2 linked regions of the Homo sapiens genome follow. The protein of the gene in region 2 interacts with the protein of the main gene of each other region in a pairwise test. Each region holds a gene or a part of one and is shown on either strand. Other genes may lie near its edges. The genes, in order: MANBAL and PIGF.

Evidence for each region.
Region 1: the proteins of PIGF (region 2) and MANBAL interact in binary tests that used the Homo sapiens proteins (3 or more experiments, as listed by UniProt).

Annotation. Positions count from the first base shown.
Region 1 is NC_000020.11:37,290,999-37,303,507, reverse strand, and holds part of MANBAL (protein MANBAL), read right to left. Parts: intron 6,213-12,509; exon of another isoform or gene 5,974-6,212; intron 4,746-5,973; exon of another isoform or gene 4,629-4,745; intron 2,338-4,628; exon of another isoform or gene 2,301-2,337; 5' UTR 2,245-2,300; coding exon 2,095-2,244; intron 1,229-2,094; coding exon of another isoform or gene 1,208-1,228; exon of another isoform or gene 1-1,207.
Region 2 is NC_000002.12:46,586,042-46,598,550, forward strand, and holds part of PIGF (GPI ethanolamine phosphate transferase, stabilizing subunit), read right to left. Parts: intron 10,196-12,509; exon of another isoform or gene 7,317-10,195; intron 6,543-7,316; coding exon 6,434-6,542; intron 5,885-6,433; coding exon of another isoform or gene 5,867-5,884; exon of another isoform or gene 5,106-5,866; intron 2,139-5,105; coding exon of another isoform or gene 2,034-2,138; intron 1-2,033.

The sequences.
Region 1 (12,509 bases), on a different chromosome or scaffold from region 2:
TAAGATAAAGAGTTACAAGACACTAGTATAAAATCAAATAAATAGAAACACTATCACCTTACATTTGAATTGGAAATACCAGTATGAACTCACAACTTTTTCATTTCTTAAAAAATGTTTATTTTCTATTTCTGTTTATTGAAAGGCCTAGATGCAATCACAGCTCAGTAGCACTGAAAACTTCTAATGTCCCAACTGTAGCCTCTAGATACTATTTTCTAGCTAAAAAGAACCAGAGCATTTTAGAGAAATGACTGATTCCAAGACTGGGGCAGGAAATGTACAAAATGAGCCTGGGGCCAGGCGCAGTGGCTCATGCCTATAATTCCAGCACTTTGGGAGCTCAAGGCAAGTGGATGGCTTGAGCCCAAGAGTTTGTGACCAGCCTGGGCAACATGGCAAAACCGTGTCTCTACTAAAAATACAAAAATTAGCCAGCCATGGTGGCACACCTGTAGTCCCAGCTACTTGGGAGGCTGAAGCAGGAGAATTGCTTGAACTTGGGAGACAGAGATTGCAGTGAGCTGTGATTGTGCCACTGCACTCCAGCCTGGGCAACAGACAAGACCCTGTCTCGCACACACACAAAAAAGAGCCTGTGACATCTTATTGAACCATGAAGCAAGGAAGCTATCAAAGACTAATGAAGTATGACAAAGAACAAAGACATCAACTTAAAGGGGCTCCCACTGAACATAAAAAACAAATTAATGGCAGATAAGTGCCCTCAAAAAAAAAAAACTAAAACATATTAAATATATTAAAAATATGTTCAGAATGCTATGAAAACCAAAGCTTCATTGGTCATCATTGGAAGTTGCTAGAGTCTGAACTCACAACTTTGAAAATTGATAAATAAAGGGAAAGAACCAAGCATTTTTCCTGCTTTTCATTATGAAGAGCAATTCAGAGTAATCATACAAGTGATAAGGAAAAGGTCTTTGTTAAAGAATTCCAGCTAACAGATGCAGAAGGAAATAATGGATCTAAGCAACGACCATCAATGGATGCTAAAACCGCTTAGGTGAAAGACTGACCGGATTTTTATAATGGAGGGATCAGCTGATACCACCTAAACCCACCGATCAATCCAAGAATCTCTAAATGTGCAGCAGCCAGACACCACCTGCTTGTTGATGCCACACAGTAGGGAGTACATAGCACCAGCTCTGAGGTATTCGTACCCAATAACCTGACTGGAATGGAATCAGGCCTCTACATGGAACTCCTGTTGACAGGAAACACAGGGAACAGAGAAACACGTTAAATGACACCACAGAGAAGCAATAGCCAATTCCTGGGATGTAGGTATCCCACATGACAAACGACCTGCTTTCTCCAATAAATCAATGTCACGAGCAAATGGGAGTGGGCAAGAAAGTGGGTAGAAGGAGGGTGTATAGTTATAAAGATACTTACAGAAGAAGAGTCAAAACAACAACAAAAAAGCCAATTTGACCATGTCATTCTCACACTTAAAACCCTCTGGCCCCTGCCCACACCTCTGGCTGCACCACTCATCATGCCCCCTCTGTGCTCTGGCCACAGTCACCTTCATTCAGTTCCTTGAATTAGCCCCTTCCTTTATTGAGTCCCTTGCACGTGCAGTGCCCTCTCCCTGGAATGTTGTCCTCGCCCCTTGCCCACTTTCACCTGGCAGAAGCCTGCTCATTCCTTCAGTCTCAGCTCAAACACTGCCTCCTCGGCAGGGCCCACAGCCCAGGGTAAGATCAGGTCTCTCTCCCCCTTGTTATATAGCCTCACTGGACTCTGTACTTCTCATGGGAGCACATGGAGGTATGTTTTTGTTATCTGCCTTCCTCCCAAGGACTAGATGCTCCTCAGGTGCAGACACTACATCTTCAGCAGAGTCTGAAATGTAGTAGGCACTAAATAAAAATCTCCTTAATGGGTACATGAACAAATAAAGTATTAGCTATGTGGTTCAACCCACCAGGTGGAAATTCAGAGGCACACTAAATCAAAAAGGCCCAATGTAGACCCTGCTGATCTCAGTTGTGGTGGCACCTACTGTTAGTACTCAGAACCCAGCCTGGCACTCAGAGGAGCTGAGGCTCCCAGGGAAAAACTCACCGCCTCGTGGGACTTGGGAATGGGTACGATGATGGCCAGCACACAGATGAGCTGGAAGATGGCTCCCAGGAAGAGTCCGTACCGTAGCAGGTTCTCCAGGAAAGTGGGCTCGGGCACCTCCGGAGGTGAGAAGTCTAGGTCAGAGGCCATGGCCCAAGTCGCTTGCTGCCTGACGTCTCTTCTGACTCACCACTCTTTAGAACCAACTTGTAAATGCAAAGGGTCAGTGTCATATTTCTGTAACTGACATTTATTTATTTATTTATTTATTTATTTATGAGATGGAGTCTCACTCTGTCGCCCAGGCTGGAGTGCAATGGCATGATCACTGCAACTTCGGCCTCCTGGGTTCAAGTGATTCTCTTGCCTTGGCCTCCCGAGTAGCTGGGATTACAGGTGTGGGCCAACACACCTGGATGATTTTTGTATTTTTAGTAGAGACAGGGTTTCACCACGTTGGCCACGCTGGTCTTGAACTCCTGACCTCAGGTGATCTGCCCGCCTCAGCCTCCCAAAGTGCTGGGATTGCAGGTGTGAGCCACCTCACCCAGCCTGTAACTGACTTTTAACTTGAACACACACACACACACCCAAGAATATATACAGGAATTGTGAAATGTTAACAACTCTTGAATCTAAGTTGGGAACATATGGTCAGTCAATGAACCATTCTTTCAACTTTTCTGTGTATCTGATGTTTTCCAAACATAAAGTTGAGAAAAATAAATAAATGCAAAGGGAAGCACTTCAACAAAAATCTCAAATCAACATACATTTACTAAAGGCTGCTACGTTTCAGGTTTTGTTGTTTATTTATTCATGTAGTCATCCATTCAACAAATATTTCTTGAATACCAAGCACTGAAGAATGAGCAAAACAGACAAACCCCTGCTTTCTTGGAGCCTCTACATGCTCAGGATGGAAGCAGACAATGAACACGTCGAGATGTGATATGCCAGGTAGTGATAAGCATTTTGGAAAAAACTTAAGGGCATCATTTTATTTTGTGATGAGAAGGCTCTCTCTGAAGAACAGAGACGGGAATGGAGTGGAAGAGATAAGAAGTGAGAGAGGGAGCCATTTGTGTATCTGAGGGAAACACGTTCCAGGCAGGGAAAAAAGCAAGTGTGGAGGCCCCAGGGTGGGGAAATGAGGCCAGTACAGGCAGAGAAGTGATCAGGAGGGAGGGTGGAAGGAGGTATGATCAGAGAGGAGTGGGGGCGGACCCTGATACCTCCAATTTGATTGAGTAAAATGTAAAGCCACTGAAGGGTTTTGAGCAGAAAAGTGACATGATCTGACTTCCATTTTTAAATGGAGGAGGGACAACAAGGGGAGAGGCAAAGTGGACACAGGGAGAGCCAGGAGGAGGCCCCTGCCAATAAGCCAGACAAGAGCTGCTGATGGCGTGAATGACAGGGGCAGTGGTGGCCAGTGGTGCAAGGTCCAGCCTCAGCCCAGCTCTCCAGCCTCTCCTCTCAGCAGGGCCCCCACTCCTAATATCCTAGTCAAGCTGAAAGAACTGCTGTGGTTCTCCAAGAGCACTGGGCTCTTTCAAAATCCTGGGCCTCTGCCCAAGCTGCATACTCTGCAAAGAATGTCCTTTCCCACTGTGACTGCTTGACAAAGCCCCCACTCTGCCTCTAAGGCTGAGCTCAAGTGTCATCTCCCCAACATGCCTCTCCTGTCACCCTCCTCTTCCCCTGGCATGACTGAACTGCTCCCCCTTTACCACAGCACCCATCAGTGGCTTTCTTCTGCCCATCCCAATGATAAAGGGGCAAATTTACTTTGGAACCAGGCCCACTTGAATCTAAAACCCTTTGTGTTTCCAGAGATCTGTGCCACAATGCAATATTTTGCTAAGTCTGAGCTATCCAATATGGTGGCCATGAGCCACACATGACTATTAAGACTTGAAACGCAGCTAGTTTGAATTGAGATGCTAATTACACACCCATTTTCAAAGACCTAGTATGAAAATAAGAATGTAATCTATCTCATTCATAATGTTTTCATATTGATTACATGCTGAAACGATTGCAGTGGCTCACGCCTATAATCTCAGCACTTTGGGAGGCCACGGTGGGCAGATCACTTGAGCTCAGGAGTTTGAGACCAGCCTGGACAACACAGCGAGACCCCATCTCTACAAAAAAAATAATAAATTAGGCAGGAGTGGTGGCTCACTCCTGTATTCCCAGCTACTCGAGAGGCTGAGGTGGGAGGATCACTTGAGCCCAGGAGCTTAAGGCAGTGAGCCACGATCACGCCACTGCACTCCAGCCTGGGTGACAGAGCGAGACCCTGCCCCCACCCGACCCTGCCCCCACCCCACCCTGCCACCAAAAAATACACGTAAAAAATAATTGGCTGGGCATGGTGGGTTACGCCCAAAGTGTAAGCCCAACACTTTGACAGGCCAAGGCAGAAGCATCACTTGAACCCAGGAGTTTGAAACCAGCCTGGGCAACAGAGTGGGACCCTGTTGCTATAAAAAATTTAAAAATTAGCCGGACATGGTGGTACACACCTGTAGTCCCAGCTACTCAGAAGGCTGAGGCAGGAGAATTGCTCCAGCTGGGAGGTCTAGGCTGCAGTGAGCCAATGAGTCGTGATTGCGCCACCCTGAGTGACGGGGTGAGAGATCCTGTTTAAAAAAAAAAAAAAATTGAATTGAAAGCAAGGACTCAAGATACTAATGTTCATAGCAGCATTATTCACAATAGCCAAAAGATGGAAACAACTAAGAGTCCATAAACAGATGAATGGATAAGCAAAACGTAGTATATACATACAATGGAGTATTACTCAGCCATAAAGGAAATGAAATTCTGATACATGCTACAACATGAATGAACCTTGAAAACATTATGAGCTTTGAATAAATATATATGAAATAAGCTAGACACAAAAGGACAAATATTGTATGAGTCCCCTTATATGAGGTACCTGGAATAGGCAAATTCAGAGACAGAAAGTAGAATTGAGGTTACCAAGGGCTGGAGGGAAGGGAAATGGGGAGATATTGTTTACTGGGTACAGAGTTTCAGTTTGCAAAGATGAAAAAGTTCTAGAAATAGACAGTGATGACGGTTATACAACACTGCAAATACCACTGAATTGTAAACTTAACAATGGTTAAAATGGTAAATTTGTTACATATATTTTGTCACAATTTTTTAAAAATCTGTTTCTTTTTACCCATTTATTTATTTATTTATTTAGAGACAGGGTCTCACTCTGTCACCCAGGCTGGAGTACAATGGCACAAACATAACTCACTGTAGCCTCAAACTCTTATGCTCAAGTGATCCTCCTGCCTCAGCCTCCCAAAGTGTTGAGATTACAGGCATCATCCCTTTTTGCTTTTTAAATGTGGCTACTGGAAAATGTAAAATTATACATAGTCTGTATTATATTTCTGTGGGGAAGCCCTGGGGTAGAGACAATCCTAAAGACCTGCCTCACAGGGCGCAGTGGCTCACGCCTGTAATCCCAGCACTTTGGGAGGCTGAGGTGGGCAGATCACCTGAGGTCAGGAGTTTGAGACCAGCCTGACCAACATGGAGAAACCCCGTCTCTAATAAAAATACAAAAAAATTAGCCGGACATGGTGGCAGGTGCCTGTAATCCCAGCTACTTGGGAGGCTGAGGCAAGAGAATCGCTTGAACTCGGGAGACGGAGGTTGCAGTGGGCCGAGATCACGCCACTGCACTCCAGCCTGGGCAACAAGAGTGAAACTCCATCTCAAAAAAAAAAAAAGGCCTGCCGCCACCTTGGCTCTGCTGCTTCACTGCTTTGCACCATGTTTCCAACATGAAGTAACCGAAGAATAATAAAAACAACCTTCGTAAGTAAACAGAGCCGGACTTACACACGAGTATTGCTTCCCTTTCAGCCTGGTCACTTCAGAAGGTCATGTGCCTGGGGCAACAGGATGGCCACTTTTCACATCAGCTCTGTCTACCATGGGAATGGCCTTCAAAGCTTGAGGCTCTTTTTCTTCCCAGCCAGAATCCTCAGAGCTGGCAGATCTTCATCCTCCCAGGAAGGATTTGACTTCTGGAAAGAGCCCAACATCATCTGGTTCCAAGTGCAGTGAATCAGGTGGCACTGAGCTCAGGAATACCATTTTTGGTCAAATACAAGGTATGATGCTCAGACTCCAAGCAGATTACTTGGGGTGGCTCATAAACTGGCCCTGAAGTGAATTCCAAGGCGGCTGCAAGAACAGCTTCACTGGAAGAAATGTAACAGCCTCTACCAGCACCACCACCATGTGAATACCAAAGCTTAAGAACGCGTCCTCATTTCTCCGCAGTTGCACCTCATAAAGTGTGCATTTTTTAAAACGCCCTTGGCCCCAAGCTTTTTGCTTAAGGCTGTAACAAGCTTTATGAGCTTATAAATACTCAGATTTACTAGTGTTACTACTAACAGCAACATTGTGATAAGAAATATTTGGAGTGGTACAATAGAAAGATAGGGCAAGAGTTGGGAAGCAGAGGACAAAAGCCCCTGCTCTATCTGCAAGTAGCTACACTTTGGGCTAATAATCTCTTGACCTCTGGAGACGGGATGTTCTCATGAGCCAAGCAACAATGATACCTATAATACATTTAGGCCTTTTTTTAAAAAATGGCAATTAGACAAAATATAACAAGAGCCATAAAAGTGATTATATCCTTTGACTGAATAACTTACTTCCTAGAATTTATAGTAAGGAAACAATTCAAAAGAAGAAAAAGCCTTCAGGTACAAAAAAGTTCATGGCAGCACTATTCATAATACTGAAAAACAGGAAGCAACCCAGGCGTCCAACAATCAGGAAGCAGTTAACCCAGTGATGGTACATCATGGCATAATCCCTCTTCACTAACCCGGCAAATATAAACATTGTGTATCAGGTCAGTGGAAAGTCTTTGCAAAGTAACAGTAATTGAAAAAAATAAGCAATTGTATAAACACTATGATTGGAACCATCTATAAGCTGATTTCATGGGCTAAAGATCAAAAGATGCTACAGAAACATAAATAGTTGCTGTTAAGGTGAATAAGTCATGAGTTTTAATTTTTTGGAATGTTATGAAACAATAAAGTATCTAAGAAAAATCTATGCCCTACCTACTTCCTTCACAAGACTTTTGTTAGGGTATAATGTCATACTGTCCAATAAAGCTTTCTGCAGTGATGGAAATGTTCTGTATTTGTGTTCTCCAAATGGTAGCCACCAGCCACATGTGGCTGTTGAAAACTTAAATGTTACAGAGAAACTGAATTTTTCATTTTATTTAACTAATTAACAATAAAAAGCCACATGTGGCCAAAGGTTCCCTACTGGACAGCACAGGTGTAACAGGAGGGTGGTTGTGAAAAGGTTCTGGAAACATAAACTGCTCTACACACACTGTGCGCCGTACGGCTCTCATCTAGTTCTCTCTGCACCTCTGTGCTTTACTTCCCAGCCCTCCTGCCAGTATTTCTGGGCTTTCCTTTCCTGATGACCAAAGTCAAACAAGTCCTATTCATCCTGCAGATCTCAACTAGGAGACACCCCTTCGACTGGCTGTGACAGGTTTTGTTCCCTGGCCATTGTTCCAGCAGCAGCAGCAGTCGGCAAATGAACGGCCAGGTGTTGCGAACAGCACTTTACAGGCAGCAACTCGCATACTTCACCACCACACTGGGAGGTGGTATTACTAATGAGGATGAGGAAACCAAGGCTTGGAGAGGTTATATGACCTACCCAGGGATAACCTGGCTGATAAGTGGCAAAGGCAAGATTCAAAGGGGCTGGCTTCCCCAGAGTCAGGGCGCTTACCCAGTATGTCAATCGTTTTCAAACTGCAGGCTGTGGCCCATTAGTGAGCCAGGAAAACCATTTAGGGGGCTGCAACCAGCATTTTTTATTAGCCAGCACTTTATTTAAGTAGGTAAATAACAATAGAAAATATCAAAGAGTATCACATTAAGGGCCGGTATTATATCCTGAAGCTTTTTCAACATCCATCTACATCTGAGCATGCATGTGCTGGATCAAATTTTAGAATGTTATTTCTTATTGTTTGAGAAATATTACACTGGAATCTACTGTTTTCTATTTGATCCATTGTAATCTCTTGAACAGCAAGGATCTTGGGTACATCTTGAGTTTATTCCAGGTCCTGACTCATAAATATTTGGTAAATGACTAAGCCTATGCCTCTGTTTCCCACCTCGAAAGCAAGAGCAGATGCCTCAACCAACAGAGTCATCATTTAACGACAAGGAGGAGCTGAGAGGCCACGAGGTTTCCCTAGACTCTCCTGATGAGTCAGGGCAGAGCTGCTATCCTGGTCTCTAGCCCTGTCCTGCTCCAGACTTGCTTACAGGTAGAGGTTTTTATACACCAGGGGACTTTCATACCCCATCAGAATTTAACAAAAGGTGCATAATTAATTATTACTGAACGTGGCAAATAATTTCATGAGGTTACTGGACACTGCGAAGTTCACCCCTGAATGCCAGACACTGGTGACGTAAGACATTAATTCATTGGACAAATATTTATTGTGAATCTACTATGTGCCAGGCACTGGTCTAATCCCTGCCACGGAGTTTCCATTCAGTTAGAAGTACTCACATACACACATACACATGCAATGTCAGGGGTGAGTATTACAATACATACAGGAAGGAAGAAGAGGATAGTACTATTTAATATGAGGTGGTCGGGGAAGGGCCTCTCTGCAAAGGTGACATTTCAACAGAGGAAAGAAGAAAGCAAAGGAAGAAGTCATTTAAACATCTGCCAGAGTATCCCAGGATGGAGGGACGGCAAGGGCCAAGTCCCTGAGGCAGGAATAAGCATCATGATCAAGAACAGTCAAGTAAGCAAGCTGCAGGCCATTATGAGGACTCTGGCCAGTCTCTGAGTGAAAAGGGAACTACTGGAAGGTTCTTAGCAAAGAAATCACATGGTCTCACTCATTTCAAAATGATCCCTCTGGCTGCTTTGTTGACAACAGACTGTAGGGGACAAGACTGAAAGCAAGGAGACCAGTGAAGAGGCTACTTTAACAGTCAAAAGACACATTTGCACCAGGGTGGTAGCTGTGGAGGTGGTAAATTCTCAGCTTACAGATATATTTTGGTGAAGGCCAACAGGAATGCTGAGGTGAAATCTGAAAGAAGTTAAAAATAATCCCTGAAGAAGGGGAAACTATCCTGTATGACACTATAATTAGGAATACAAAATATTAAGCATTTGTCAAAACCCAAAAATCTTGACAGCACAAAGAGTAAAGTTTAATGTATGCAAATATTTTTAAAAAGACATAGGAAGGCCATCACAGTGGCTCACACCCATAATCCCAGAACTGTGAGAGGCCAAGGCAGGAGGATTGCTTGAGCCCGGCAGTTTGCGACCAGCTTGGGCAACATAGTGAGACCCAGTTTTTAAAACACACCAACATACACACGCATGAAGTCAGGGTGTTCCAGGATGGAATGCAGAATGTGACATTCTGAATCCAAATGTATTAAACAACTTCACTGAAAGGGTAGTGGGGGAATAGGGTGCTGACCTAAGTAACTTTGAAAACGAGTGGAGCCTGTAAGACTGAAGGCAAAAGGAACTGCACGTACACACTGTACTCTAGCTGATAAGTTGTTTCCCACAGGGGATCGGGGGAGCAATTCTAAAACCACCATACATGTATGCTAAATGGAACAATTAAGTAAATGTATGGTGAATGGTGGGAGTCGGGTTTGTCACAGGTGGAGTGGGAGGTTACAGACAAGCAAGAGAAGGAAGCTAGAACACAGGTCCCCAACCCCCAGGCCACAGACCAGTACCAGTCCATGGCCTGTTAGGAACCAGGCCGCACAGCAGGAGGTGAGCAGCAGGTGAGCAAGCGAAGTTTCTTTTATATTTACAGCCGCTCCCCATCACTCACATTACCGTCTGAGTTCCACCTCCTATCAGATCAGCGGCTGCATTAGATTCTCATAGAAACACGAACCCTATTGTGAACTGTGCATGTGAGGGATCTAGGCTGTGTGCTCCTTATGAGAATCTAATGCCTGATGATCTGTCACTGTCTCCCATCACCCCCAGACGGGACTGTCTAGTTGTAGGAAAACAAGCTCAGGGCTCCCACTGATTCTACATTATGGTGAGTTGTATGATCATTCCATTATATATTACAATGTAATAGTAACAGAAATAAAGTGCACAATAAATGTAATGCACTTGAATCATCCCAAAACCATCCCCACCCCCAGGTCTGTGGAAAAATTGTCTTCCATGAAACCGGTCCCTGGTGCCAAAAAGGTTGGGGACTGCCAAGCTAGAACAATCCATGCAGTCATGGATAAGAGTTGGACATCAGTTATGTTTAGCTGAACGTAGATACAGGTGGTTATATATGGAAATACTTCTAGATCTGTGCATATATACGTATGTCTCTTACTCTGTCCACTGCGAAGGCCTAGAAGCAAGGACACTGAGAAGCACTGAGCATACCTAGAGCCCAGATCTTGTTTTCTGGGCCATTCTCCAATAAAAGGAGCCAGGGCTCCTTGGGAAATGGCTAATTCTAGGACTGGGGCAGAAACATACCAGATGAGTCTGGAATAGAAAGAAAGTGCTCAACAAAACAAAACAAAGCAAAACATATAGAGGGGGATATGTCAAAGGGATACAGGAGCCAAGTGGAAGAGCTCCCAATGGCCAATGGAGGAACAATTTCAGCAACAAAATAAAGTAGTACTGGATTCTGGTCCAAAGTATAAAATAAACATCCATGAGTTCAGGCCCGGCATGGTGGCTCACGCCTGTAATCCCAGGAGAGGGGATTCCTGTAATCAGGAGGCCAAGGCAGGTGGATCACCTGAGGTCAAGAGTTCAAGACCAGCCTGGCCAACATGGTGAAACTCTCTCTACTAAAAATACAAAAATTAGCCAGCCATGGTGGTAGGTGCCTGTAATCCCAGCTACTCAGGAGGCTGAGGCAGGAGAATCACTTAAACCCGGGAGGTGGAGGTTGCAGTGAGCCAAGACTGCACCACTGCACTCCAGCCTGGGCGACAGCGGGAGACCCTGTCTCAAAACAAAACAAATCCATGAGTTCACACCGATACAAATATATGACTCTGTAAGCAAAAAATAGGGGAACAGACAAATTTCCCACAGAGAACTCCAAATAATTTGCATTATATACTCTGCCTTTAAGCATGGGGCATAATTCCACACTCCTTAAATGTGTGCTGTACATAATGACTTTCTCCAAAAGTACAGTGCGGAAAGTGCAGGAGGAAAAGTAACTCTACACTGGAAAAGCCTGACTACTACCTCAAGCCAGGTGGCTCAAGCTAACAGATGTCAACAATGATAACTCATATCGATAGTATGTACCCTTGATATGATGTGATGAGAATAGCACTTTACTTCTGTGGTTGGATTAGTCCATTTTCATACCACTTTGAAGAAATACCCGAGACTGGGTAATTAATAAAGAAAAAGAGGTTTAACGGACTCACGGTTCCACATGGGTGGGTAGGCCTCACAATCACGGCAAAAGGCAAAGGGGAGGCAAGGGCATGTCTTATGTGACAGCAGGCAAGAGAGTGTGTGCAGGGGAACTGCCCTTTATAAAACCATCAGATCTCCTGAGACTTATTCACTATCAGGAGAATAGCATGGGAAAGACCCACCCCCATGATTCAATTGTCTCCCACCAGGACCCTCCCACAACATGGGGGGATTATGGGAGCTACAATTCAAGATGAGATTTGGGTGGGGACACAGCCGAACCCTATCAGTGGTCCTCCTCCCCAAAAACCCATTACCCTGATCTTACTCATGTCAAAAACAGGCAAATCCTAATTAAAGGTCCTTCTGCAAAATATCTGACCAGTCAGTACTATCTTCAAAACCCTCAAGTTCATCTAAAACAAGGGAAGTCTGAGAAACGATCACAGAGATGATGAGCCTAAAGAGATATGATGACTAAATGTAATAGGGTGCCCTGGATAATACCAGGACAGAAAAAGGACATTAGGGAAAAACTAAGGAAATGTGAATAAAGTACAGATTAGAGTTAATAATAATGTATCAATATTGGTTCAGTAATTGTGACATTTCAGATATTAGTAATAGGGGAAACGTGGGCTATATGGGCACTCACTGAAGTATCTTTGCGATAACTTTGTAAATCTAAAATTATTCTAAAACAAAAAGGTTATTGGGGAAAAAAAGAATGGGTCAACATTTCAAAACAAATAAATAAAAAACCACTGAGACAAGTATAGCTCTCAAGACTTAGCAAATACTAAATCTTCTCTTAAGACTGAAAAACTCAGATTTCACGACTGCCACAGGCCTTCATCTCCCAATGTTGTGTACTGTGCTGGTAGGCCATTCTTGGC
Region 2 (12,509 bases):
GGGATTACAGGCGTGAGCCACCGCGCCCAGCCATAAAGCAATCATCTTTAATACATGCTGTTCTTCATGTGAAATGTCTGTTACAAGAGCAAATTCAGGAGCTGTACAACATACTGGCATTACGTTAACCATCTGTATCCTTACCTCAGAAGGTTACCCTGCTGCTAGCTGTCATTTTTCATAAATTCGAAGAAACAAAATTTTAAGTACAGATAGTGGTTTTAAACTAATCATTGGTAGGCATTTGTGTTAATTTTTAAAGGCTCATATGAATGACTCCATTCATTCGAAACTATTTGTGGAGCCCCTACCTTAACCCAGCAGTTAAAGGTGTAAACTAAGATTAAATTATTTAATTTTGGATACATTTTAGTATAAATTCTTAAAAATGTGTTCCAATATAATAAATATTACTTATAATTTTGGGGGAGATTTACACTGTCACAGATAACATGGAGAAACTGACCTATCTGCAAATCAGAACACCTACAGACATTTAGAACAACTCACAACCATTAGGATTACTGTCTCTCTCGAGATAAAAAGGAAGATAAAATCCAGTTCTCAATCTCTCATGAGCTACTTTTCAATATGTTTGTTTTGTTAATTGTGCTTATCACAAATTTGCATTTGCATGACTGAGAGAGTTCATCTTTCAAAGCCTGCTGACCTACTGGTTATAAATAATCATTTATATTCTCCTCCAAAATTGGTCTTGAACAGTATGTTTTTCCAGATATTCCTAAAGTAAATGTTATTGTCTGATACAGGAATACATGCACAAATGAATCTACTCATTGGGATACATTTCTCTAGTTAAAAATCTACACTCATCCATGTATACACTCTCCTGTGACTAAGAATACTACTTTAGGAAGAGTTATTTGCGAAGGGGTGTGTAGTTCCTGGTCTGGAATTCTTGTCAAAATGACACTAAAAGGTTCTGGTCACAACTCGTGCAAACGAGTTAACTTGGCCAGCATTATTCTCTCTAACATGAAAGTCCTGTTAGCAGAGCATTATCAACATGATTACCCTACGATGAACACGCCTTTTCAATCCAAAACCATTTCATGCCAGTTCAATGTTAACACATTTTTCTCATGCTTGAAACATACAAACCATATTCATATAAATGAGTATTTTATTTTGGTCTAAAACACAGTATCATCCCTTTGGTAATGGAAATACCAATTAACGTAAAAACCTGCAGCTCTTCAATCAATCAAATCCATAATCTTAGTTTTAATCTCCCTCCAGCATTTTGCAGTAATTCATGTAGTTATAATCCTATGATTCCTAGTTTCAACTTATGAAAGAATTATCTGTGGCATCTGTGACTTTAGGAAATGAATATACATATTTCACAAATACTAGATTTCTAACGTGGTAAAACTGAAAAAAAAAAACCCAAAAAATTTTTAAATACAACAATGCCTCATTTATCTGGTGTCTGTTGAGAATAAGTACAAATATTTTAAAACAACTTTAAATTGTTTCAAAGACGATCTCAGGTGTCTAAAATTCAAAATCTCCAAATTCAGTTATTTAAAATACTTTATATCAATTTTCCTTTTTACCTTCGTAAGAAATAAGCATCCTAGCCGAGACTTGATTATTTGGTTCAAATATTTTTAAAGATTGTAGCACTGAAGTCCATAGTTTAAAGGCATGTGTGGATTTGTTAGGGACAAAATCATTGCATATTAGCTTTAAATATTCTCCTACAAATAAATTACGGCCTAAAATACAGACACCACCACAACGGTCAAGGCATGTAATGAAAACAATGTGGGGAAAGAAATGAAATATAATAAGTAATTTAGCTATTCCAAAGAGACCTAAGCTATGACCATTTTTTAAAAAGAAAAGCTATGTTTTAGTTTCCAGCAATGAAAAGAATCATGGTGTAGTGGGGCTCTCATGTGAATCTTAAGTCTCCCTCTTCCCACCTGAGTAATGCTAAGCAAGATGTGTACTCCTCCCCTCTCACACTTGGACTTTCTAGTGTATAAAATGGGAGTAAAACCTACCTTGCACTACGGTTGTCAGGATTAAGTTACTCATTTCACAGTACCAAGCCCCCTGCAGGGTACATGGAGAGATCTATAAGTGCTACGTTTTCTTTCTACTGTCATCTGAAATGTCAGACAGGATTGAAAATTATGTGAAATCCAAATACCCTAAATTGGCATAACTAAATACCAGAGAAATAGATAAATTAACAGTCCACTCTACCAACTGAAAGACTGCTGGGCAGAAAAAATAAAACAACAAACTGAGACAATTAACATATTCTCTAATATATGAGAACTCAAATAAATCATGGAATTTGCATTTTTTGAAGGCTAAAAATATAGTCATTAAACTATGTCTTTTCTAGGTCACAAATGCCTGTAACATTAATTAAGTAATAACCATGTGTCAGGTGCTGAGCTAGGTATTTTAGAGGGATTTTATTATTTCATCCTCACTAGCAAGTGACAAAGCCAGGATTTCAACCCAGTAATCTGATGCCAGAACTCCTAATCATCATGTTACCTGCCTACCCATTAATAAAACGTGAGTTTAAAAACCTCATGGTCAATTTCCTGTGCTCAGAATAACCAACAATATTTCTTAACCTTCCACTAATTTTTTATAACATGAAATACTAGCCATGTTTTGACAAGACATTTTCCAGATGAAAAACCTCATAGCTACATATTCTATGAAATAGTTACAGCATATTAAATCTAAATCACAGTTCAAATCTAAATTATTAAATAATTAAATTCCAGTCCTGGGTGTATTTAAGTATCTGTTGTACTTACTTACACAGAACATATGCTATGCATACAGTAATAACAACAAATACTTATTGATTAGCTATTTAGTTACAGCAGATAAAGAATCAAATTATAAAATACAAAGGTTTTCTGTAGTCCAAATATTTATTTTGTCAGCAACTATAAGCTTTCTCTAGAAGTTGAAAAAGCCTATCTGGATTATGGGAAATTCAAATATTTGTTTTCTTGCTGAGATTTTAAGGCAAATAAGGTAGAGGCAAGAAGATGACTTTAAAGTATTAAAACAACAACAAAGATGACCAACAGTATAATGGGTAGCTACCCTACCATATTCTCTTTAACCATATCCCCTTGCTGCCTTCTACAAAAGAAAGGCTTCCTCCAACTATAAAGATGCCTAATCTTTCATCACTTGCCATTATTTAAAATCACTTAAGATTTATATTAAGTTAAAAAACTTTTACATTGAGATCACATATTTTCAGTGGGCCTTTCCAGTCATTTAATGAAGAAATTATTTTAAACATAAAAATATGCTTGAAACAGCTCATTACAGAATCCACATCACTATAATCTTATGCTTGGCCTCAGGAATGTTATACAATGGTTTGAGTTCAAAGTAAAGAAAACTGAATTAAAACATGTAGTAGATTTTGTGGGGTTTTGTGTGTGTGTGTGCATGTGTGTGTTTTTAAAGGTACAATTGCTTAACCAGATATTCCTGTTTCTCTGACTGGAATATAAATAAAACCAGAACACAATCCAGAAAAGCTTGCTTTACCACAAGCAGATCAAATCGGTATTGGGCTACAAGGAACACAGAACAAGAATCTCTTAATACATGTTCTATTTTAGATAATAAAGTGTATACTGTATTGTCTTCTCATGAAATTTTGCTCTAACAACATCTCCACTTTTAGAAAATGCCATATTCCCTTATCTGATTTATTGCTTCTCTGGGAGATGCTGTTCTGTGGAGTTAGAATTATTAAAAAATAACAATAACAAAAAAACAAACAACCTTGTTTGCTGGAAATAAAAAGTGAAAAAAAAACCTCATTTCTTTAGTTTATTAGTAAATAACTGCTAAAAGGGCAAGGAGCAGATGAGTGCTATATGAATAAAAGATTTTTAATTATACATCAATTCTATCATTCCCTCAACAATACATTTCATAATTTAAAAGGTTTACAGTGAATACGTGGGTCATTAACTTGGAATATTCTAAAAACAACCCAATAGTAAAGATAATTACATGGCCAGTAATATTCCAGCTGAATGAAACACTCTTAATGGAAACCAACACTTGTTATGTATTTAAATTAGATTTAAAATTAAATTAATTTCCAGCTACCTAGAAAATCTTTTTAAAAAGTCAGTAATTCAAATGGAAACTTTACATTAATTTAAAAAGTAATACCATCAATTTGGATCTAGTTCATCCTTATTGTTAACAAGCACTGAGGGAGAAAAATGGGTCATCAGCTAAAAGCCTGAACAATCCCAAAATGGGTGACTGAACTGTAAATAATTAAGATATATATTTTCTAAGCAAACCTAAACACATATTTTATAAAGCACATATATTCATTCCTCTTAGTTCAGTTTCTACTACTGCACTGTCTTGTAAACAGAAAAGACTTAAATTATGTGTAATATATCAAACCTTTACACTCTAATGTATTGCATCATATACAAAATGATTATTATATCTTACCAACTCATTAAAGCTAATGTCCCATAGTACTTTATTTATCAATACTTTCTATTTAGATTTAATTGCATTACTTGATAGCAATGAATCTACACAGTTTCAATTTTCTGTGTATACTTTTCAATGATTTTGATTGTCCTCCAATTTAGAAATCACTGACACTCTGTTGAATGACATCAAGTATGGATGACTTCTATAAGATGTCAACTTAAGAAACCTTTACTAGCACCAAAAACTTGAGATGGGAATCTGTGACGATACACACACCAAACCTCCAAGGATTTCTCTAATATAGTGATGAAGAGTTAAAACAGGGAAGGGCAAACCTATCAGACCTATTAAACATGAAACAACAATTTGACTTTCGGGGAGACACGACATCTAACTGAAAGCACAAAGAATAGAGCTAAATGTAGGCAGTTATGTGCAAGGCACACAATCTGGATCCCACATTTGGCAAATGAGGTATGTATCAAAGATTTAATTCATCAATTCATTAGGTAGGACTCTACCCTACAGAGAAAATTGGACAAATATGCAAAGATGTATAAGTATGATAATGACCATATTTGATAATAAAATAATAATAGTAAAATAGGAAATGACCTAAATGTTCTTTAATAAAAAACTGGTACAATATTTTACACAAATAATCGAATATTACATATATGTAAGTTTTCATTGACATAGAATGAGCTCCATAATATACTGCTGAGGGGAAAAAGCAGATTAAAAACAACATGAATATTATAGTTACAGGCATGGAGAGAGACAGCTGCAAAAATTATCACCAAAAGCAAATGGAGGTTTCCTCTGGGTGGTTGGGGAGGAAAGTAATTTTTACTTTCTTCCTTAGAATTACTAATATTGCTTTAATTTTCTAAATAAATATACATTATCTTCGTGATCAGAAAAAAATTATCTTCATGTTGGAAAAAGAAAGCACATTTATTTTTTAATACCATAATTCTTTTTGGGAGTAATTACTCTGTGAACCTAATTAGAAAAATTCAAGAAGCTATAGATTCAAAGATTTTATCACAGCAGTGTTTATTATCACAAAATACTGGCAATAATCTAAATGATCAATAGTGAATTTGTTAAATAAGTTATAAAGTATATAATGGCATACTACAAAGTCATTAATATTAAGATAAAGATACAGTCATCACTGTAAGTTCAGTGACCTTGGGAATGTTACATACCCTCTAGGTGTCAGTTTCCTCATCTGTAAAATGGGTATAAAAAGAGCACTTACCTCACAGTGCTTTACCTAGCATATCAGCTTTATCTTATTGTGATACAAGACGAAAAATCTGATGTTTGTGAGCTTTCTTGATAACACAGGCCGCTGCTGCAAAAATTACCTTGCTATCTGCTTCTAAAAATTTCAAGAGGAACATTCAATTTGGCCATCAATCAAGTTCAGAAAATATGAATATAAGACCACAAGGGCAATAAATATCAAAGTTGAAAATAGGAAATTTCTGCAGCTATTAACCTAGTTTTTAAAAATTCCTATACTGGCTGGGCTCGGTGGCACACACCTGTAGTCCCAGCCACTTGGGAGGCTGAAGCAGGAAGATCGTTTAGGCCCAAGCATTAGAGGACAGCCTGGGCAAGAGAGTGAGAACCTGTCTTTTTTAAAAACAATAAACAAACCGCCTATATACAATCACAAAATAAGCTTGTTTATTCATCTACACATGTGCAAAAAATAGTGCTAGAAGATAAAACCAGGGCTACCTAGACACCTGTGGCACTGGACAGTCCCCATTAAGAAGCTGCCCAGATTACAGTGACTGATAGAAGTGGTATCCCTACTTAATTGAACAACAAAACAATTTACATATACACACTAGTTTGCTTCATCTGTTTTACTATCATTGTACAAACATTTATTTTGTTGCTTTAAGTAACTGAAACCAACCTGCCATGGTCTTTCCCAATCCAGTGGAATAGGAAGTGCTCCAAGCCATGCTCCTACAAAGCTAGAAATTGTAGTGATCTGGAGACTATTCTCCCATATGGATGTAACTCTGTGAAACACAAATTGGTACATCGTTGGTGGTATATACATGAGCTGCTGGAGAATCCAACAAGCACTAGCACACATTATCAGTATACATATATTTCCTGCTAATTTAAAATGAAAATCTCAAAATGACATATACATATTTACCATGAACTATTAATAGTTAATTGGTAAGAAGATGTAAATGTTTTCCATTGGAAAGGTAATATACAGACGCACTAGGAGTCAAACCATGTTAAAGAGCATTTGTAGAAACAGCTAAGTCTTCCACCCCTATCATCAACTCCTGGTTCCTTTCCCCACAGGCAACTGCTATTATGCTAAATTATTACATATTCTTCCAGAAATATTTTATACAGGCACAAATACACACATAATTTTGTTTTGAAGGATATATGTACATTTGCATAAATACACATGTACATATGTATATTTCTTCAAAACAAAACTCAGATGCATCATGTTATAAACCAAGTTTTGCTTGTTTTTCCTTGTTAACAGCTGTAACAGTATTCCATTGTATGGATGGTGCATCATTTATTCAACCAGTCTTTCTTTTTTTTTTTTTTTTTCAGACGGAGTCTCACTCTGTGTCCAGGCTGGAGTGCAATGGAGCGATCTCGGCTCACTGCAACCTCAGCCTCCCGGGTTCAAGCGATTCTCCTGCCTCAGACTCCTGAGTAGCTGGGATTACAGGTGTGTGCCACCATGCCCAGCTAATTTTTGTACTTTTAGTAGAGATGGGGTTTCACTGTGTTGGCCAGGCTGGTCTCGAACTCCTAACCTTGTGATCCACCCACCTTGGCCTCCCAAAGTGTTGGGATTATAGGCATGAGCCACTGCACCCGGCCTCAACTAGTCTTTCTTACAGCACACTTCATTTATATAAACCAATTCAATTTACTTGGCAAGAAACAGGCAGAGAACAAGAACAAAGTATTTCAAAAGATCTGGTGATTCTGCCTACCGTTCCTATTTACTAAGTGCACATCTGAGAGTGTAAAGGTGGAAAGACTTAATTCTGCCATTCTCTTAGTAGGTGTTAGTTTCAGCCTGGCCCTCATAGGGTGAACACTTCATCATGTAGAACAGGAGTCTGGTTACAGTCAGGTAAAAGCCCACTGCAATGCACTAAGTGGGGTCCAAATATTCAATTGTTTAAATTGCAAGGTGAAGTTATTGAAAAGTAGCCTCTTCTAGATAGTATGGGGGAAAACATTTGTTTTGTTAGATGATTTATTTAACTAGAAACAGGCCAATTATTACACGCAAAATGTACACTGAATTTTAAAAGTCCCAAATGATGACAAGTCAGTTCACAAACCAATCCCTCTATCATCCTCCATCTCATACTCCCCAACTACACAAGATAAGAGCCTTAGCTTGTTTCCATTGAGAAGCAGGGCTAAGAACGGGCTGGAGCCAATCACATATATCCAAATTTGTACTATTTGTAGGGCTTTATTATTCTTTTTTATTTCATGTAACACCTATAAATATAAGTCAGCTTTTTCAACTAGCATTCAATAGAACAGAGATGTGTTCCAATGTTGGAAGGAAAAACTGGCCAAGTTCAATGTAAAGGGAATTGTACTATTTTAGCAATTTAAAGGATTTCCTAGGCCAATTTTTGACTACATGTGGCTGACAATGATGACTAAGCTTCAACTTAACACACACCTCCTCTATACTGTAATACATAAAGTGATGTGCCTGGAAACATAAGGTGTGGTAGAGGTTGAGAGCAGAGATTACTTTCTGTTGGGAAGAATTCACTTTTTCTATTTTATGGAACAGGAGGAAGTTCAGCTGGATTGGAAAGAATAGGTAGCATCAGGTCTTAAACTGGAGGACTGGAGAAAAGAGCTGCACTGCAGACAAGAGAACACAAGTCAGATTGCTAGAGGCCACGTGGAAGAACGAGAAATAAGGCTGGAAAAGTAGGGCAGAGTTAGGATTTTTTTTTTTTTTTTGAGACGGAGTTTCGCTGTTGTTGCCCAGGCTGGAGTGTAATAGAGTGATCTCGGATCACTGCAACCTCCACCTCCCGGGTTCAAGCCATTCTTCTGTCTCAGACTCCTGAGTAGCTGGGATTACAGGTGTGTGCCATCACACCAGGCTAATTTTTGTATTTTTAGTAGAGATGGGGTTTCACCATGTTGGCCAGGCTGGTCTCGAACTCCTGACCTTGTGATCCGCCGGCCTCAGCCTCCCAAAGTGCTGGGATTACAGGTGTGAGCCACTGCGCCCGGCCCTCACCGTTTTTTTTTTTGTTTGTTTTTGTTTTTGAGATGGAGTTTCGCTCTTGTTGCCTAGGCTGGAATGCAATGGCGCAACCTGGGCTCACTGCAACGTCCGCCTCCCGGATTCAAGGGATTCTCCTGCCTCAGCCTCCCGAATAGCTGGGATTATAGGTGGCTAATTTTTTGTATTTTTTTTTAGTAGAGATGGGGTTTCACCATTTTGGTCAGGCTGGTCTCCACAGTTAGGATTTTTAAAAATAGCTTTATTGAGTAGAGTCAAAAATTATCCTAGAAAATCCTTTCTAGCCATACAATTCACTAATTTCAAGTATACAAATCAATGGTTTTTAGTATATTCACAGAGTCGTGCAGCCATCACCACTGTAAGTTTTAGAACATTTTCATCATCCCCAGACTCTTTAACCATTACCAATCACTCTCCATTTCTCCTTCCTCCCAGCCCTAGGCAACCACTAAGCTACTTTCTGTCTCTCTGGATTTGCCTATTCTGGACATTTCATATAAATGGAATCATAAAGCATGTATGACTGGCTTCTTTTTCCTAGCATAATGTTTTCAAGGTTCATCCATGTTGCAGCATGTATCAATATTTCATTCCTTTTTATGGCTCAATCATATTCCCTTCAAGGGATATTCCACATTTTATCTATTCAACAGCTGATGGATATTTGGGTTGCTTCTACTTTTTGGTTATTATGAATAATGTTGCTATGAACATTTATGCACAAGTTTCTGTGTGAGCATATGTTTTCATCTCTCTTGGGATTACACCTAGGAGTGGAATTGTTAGGTCCTATGGAAACTCTTATATTTAATCACTTGAGGAACTAACTACCAGACTCTTCCAAAATGGCTGAACCATTTTATATTCCCACCAGCAGTGTATGAGGATTCCAATTTTTCCACACCCTCCTGACACTTGTCATTATCTTTTTTTTATTACAGTCATCGTAATTGGTGTGAAATGGTATCATGGTGATAGATTTAGGGTTAGGATTTTAGAAAATTCTTAAATATCAAACTAAGGAACCATGAAGGTTTTCAATCAACGCAACTTTACGATCAGAGATGTTTCAATAAGATTTATGTGGCTGGGTGCGGTGGCTCTCGCCTGAAATCCCAACACTTCAGGACGCAGAGGCGGGCGGATCACAAGGTCAGGAGTTCGAGACCAGCCTGGCCAACATGATGAAACCCCATCTCTACTAAAAATACAAAAAATTAGCTGGGCGCAGCGTCAGGCACCTGTAATCCCAGCTACTCGGGAGGCTGAGAACGGAGAATCGCTTGAACCCGGGAGGCGGAGGTTGTCGTGAGCCGAGACGATGCCATTATACTCCAGCCTGGCGACAGAGCGAGACCCCATCTCAAAAAAAAAAAAAAAAAGATTGATGTATGTATCTTTCTAACCTCTAAGTTCTAAGTTCCTTGGGCTAAGAGGCAAAATCCATGCCTTCACATTTTTCACGGTTCCAGCACACTTGTGGCCATCTTATGTTTATTAAAATAAAAAATATGATCATCCAAGAGGTTGCCCTCTATTTTGTGGTAGCCAAGTGTTTATGATCCTACATATAATAAATGTAGAAAAAATGGAACTGAGACCTATTTTTAAAAATAGAAAAACTCTGTAGCTTGTTTTTAAAGTAAAAATTTCATATTTATCAAAATAATATATGTGACATCTTTAAAGTAAAGGAGTACAATTAAACTAATAATAAAAATAGTAGTCTCCTCTTCCATCCCTCCCCACTCCTGATGTCTGCTCCAAGACAGATATTTTCAACTCTTTTTGCTGCTTCTTCTATTTACCTCAAATTAAAAAAAAAAACATAAATTAAGTATAGATTTTTCAAGATTAACTTACTTTCTGCCTTCTTCTAAGGGAGAAGATTTAGCACCTTTTATCTACAAGCTGCCTACCTCCACATACACATTTCTCCCTGACTCACGCCCCTTCTACAATGGTAACATCTCCTCCTTTCAACCGAATCAATAGTAATGTCTACGTTATGATGATTATAAAACTGCTAATCACAGTGAACCACACAGTAAACCACAATTATACATTTCTTTTCTCATAGTAAATATAATCTTTAATTGTCCATGGATGTTAAGAACTGCCTCTTTTTCCCTGCTCTGTTTGCTTACGTACCTGTCATTAAGTAATTTTCACATATTCCAAAGAAGCTAAGTAGTACCTCTAAATGCTTGATTTCTTCTCCCCGCTCCTTCCATCTTTTTGGAGCCACCTAGGACTGCTGCAAAACTGCTGTGCTGTGGGGTCCCTGCACGAGCATCTTGTGAATTCCCTTTGCCTCTCTCAGTTCTTTTGGATCTGCTCTTTCCTAAATTCCAAGACTTCCTCCATCTATCTTCCTTTTTCTTTTCTTTTTAAGCACCTCTTTCAATAGATTCCTGAGAAAGGAATTTTCTTTTTCAGCACCTCCTTCCATAGATTCCTGAGAAAGGGTACATGGAAAATAGATGCTTAGAGATGTTTTAAGTCTGAAAATGATTTTACTGTAATTTTTGGGAATCATTCTGCCTCAGAATTTGTGGGGGGTTTTTTGTTGTTTTTTTTTTTGAGGTGAAGTCTCACTTTGTCATCCAGGCTGGAGTGCAGTGGCACGATCTTGGCTTACTGCAACGTCTGCCTCCTGGGCTCAAGCGATTCTCCTGCCTCAGCCTGCCGAGTAGCTGGGATTACAGGCGCCTGCCACCATGCCCAGCTATTTTTGTATTTTTAGTAGAGATGGGGTTTCACCTTGTTGGCCAGGCTGGTCTCGAACTCCTGACCTCAAATGATCTGCCCACCTCGGCCTCCCAAAGTGCTGGGATTATAGGCGTGAGCCACAGCGCCTGGCCCTGCCTCAGAATTTGGAAGGCACTGCTCCAATGTTTTCTGATTCCCACTTGAGAAGTTCAGTGCCATTCTGGTTTCCCGTCCTCTGTAGGTATCATGTTTCTCTCATTCTCTAAAAACTTTTAGAATGATCTCTTTATTGCTGGTTATCAAAAATTTCACAAAAATGTTTTTTAAAGTGTTTTTTCATCCACTATGCTGAAAATATATGGGCCTTCTTAATCTAAAATCTCAGGTATTCTGGTTCTTAAAATTGTCTTCTACTTAAAGACCTTGTTTGATCAGATCACTTAAGAATTTTTCCCTTACTCTTGCTAGGTATACTATTATTTTGAACTAATTTCTGCTTTTATCTTTTAATTCATTTTGCAATCTTTACCTTTTTGTTTGACTAGGGAATCTTTTCAAGTTTTGTCTCTACTTCCGTTGAGTATTTTTATTCCCCAAAAGTTTTCTTGTTCTCTGAATATGCATTTTGACTGCCTCCTGTTCACCTTTTATGGTAAACTTTAAAAAAAAAAAGTAAGTTTTTAAGTTATCTTCTGTCTTTATATACTGCCTCTATTTCCCCTGAGTTTCTTTTTTGTTGTTTTCATTTCTGGATTTTATTTGACGTATTCCTCAAATATCTGGTGATTCTTTACTTCTCATTCTACTTAAAACACCATGTATGTAATGTCCAGACTAGGCAAATCTACAGAGATAGAAAATATATTAGTGTAAGCTTCTCTAACCCACGGCCCATAGGCCACATGTGGCCCAGGATGGCTTTGAATGTGGCCCAACACAAATTCATAAACTTTCTTAAAACATTATGAGATTTTTTTTTTTTTTTTTTTTT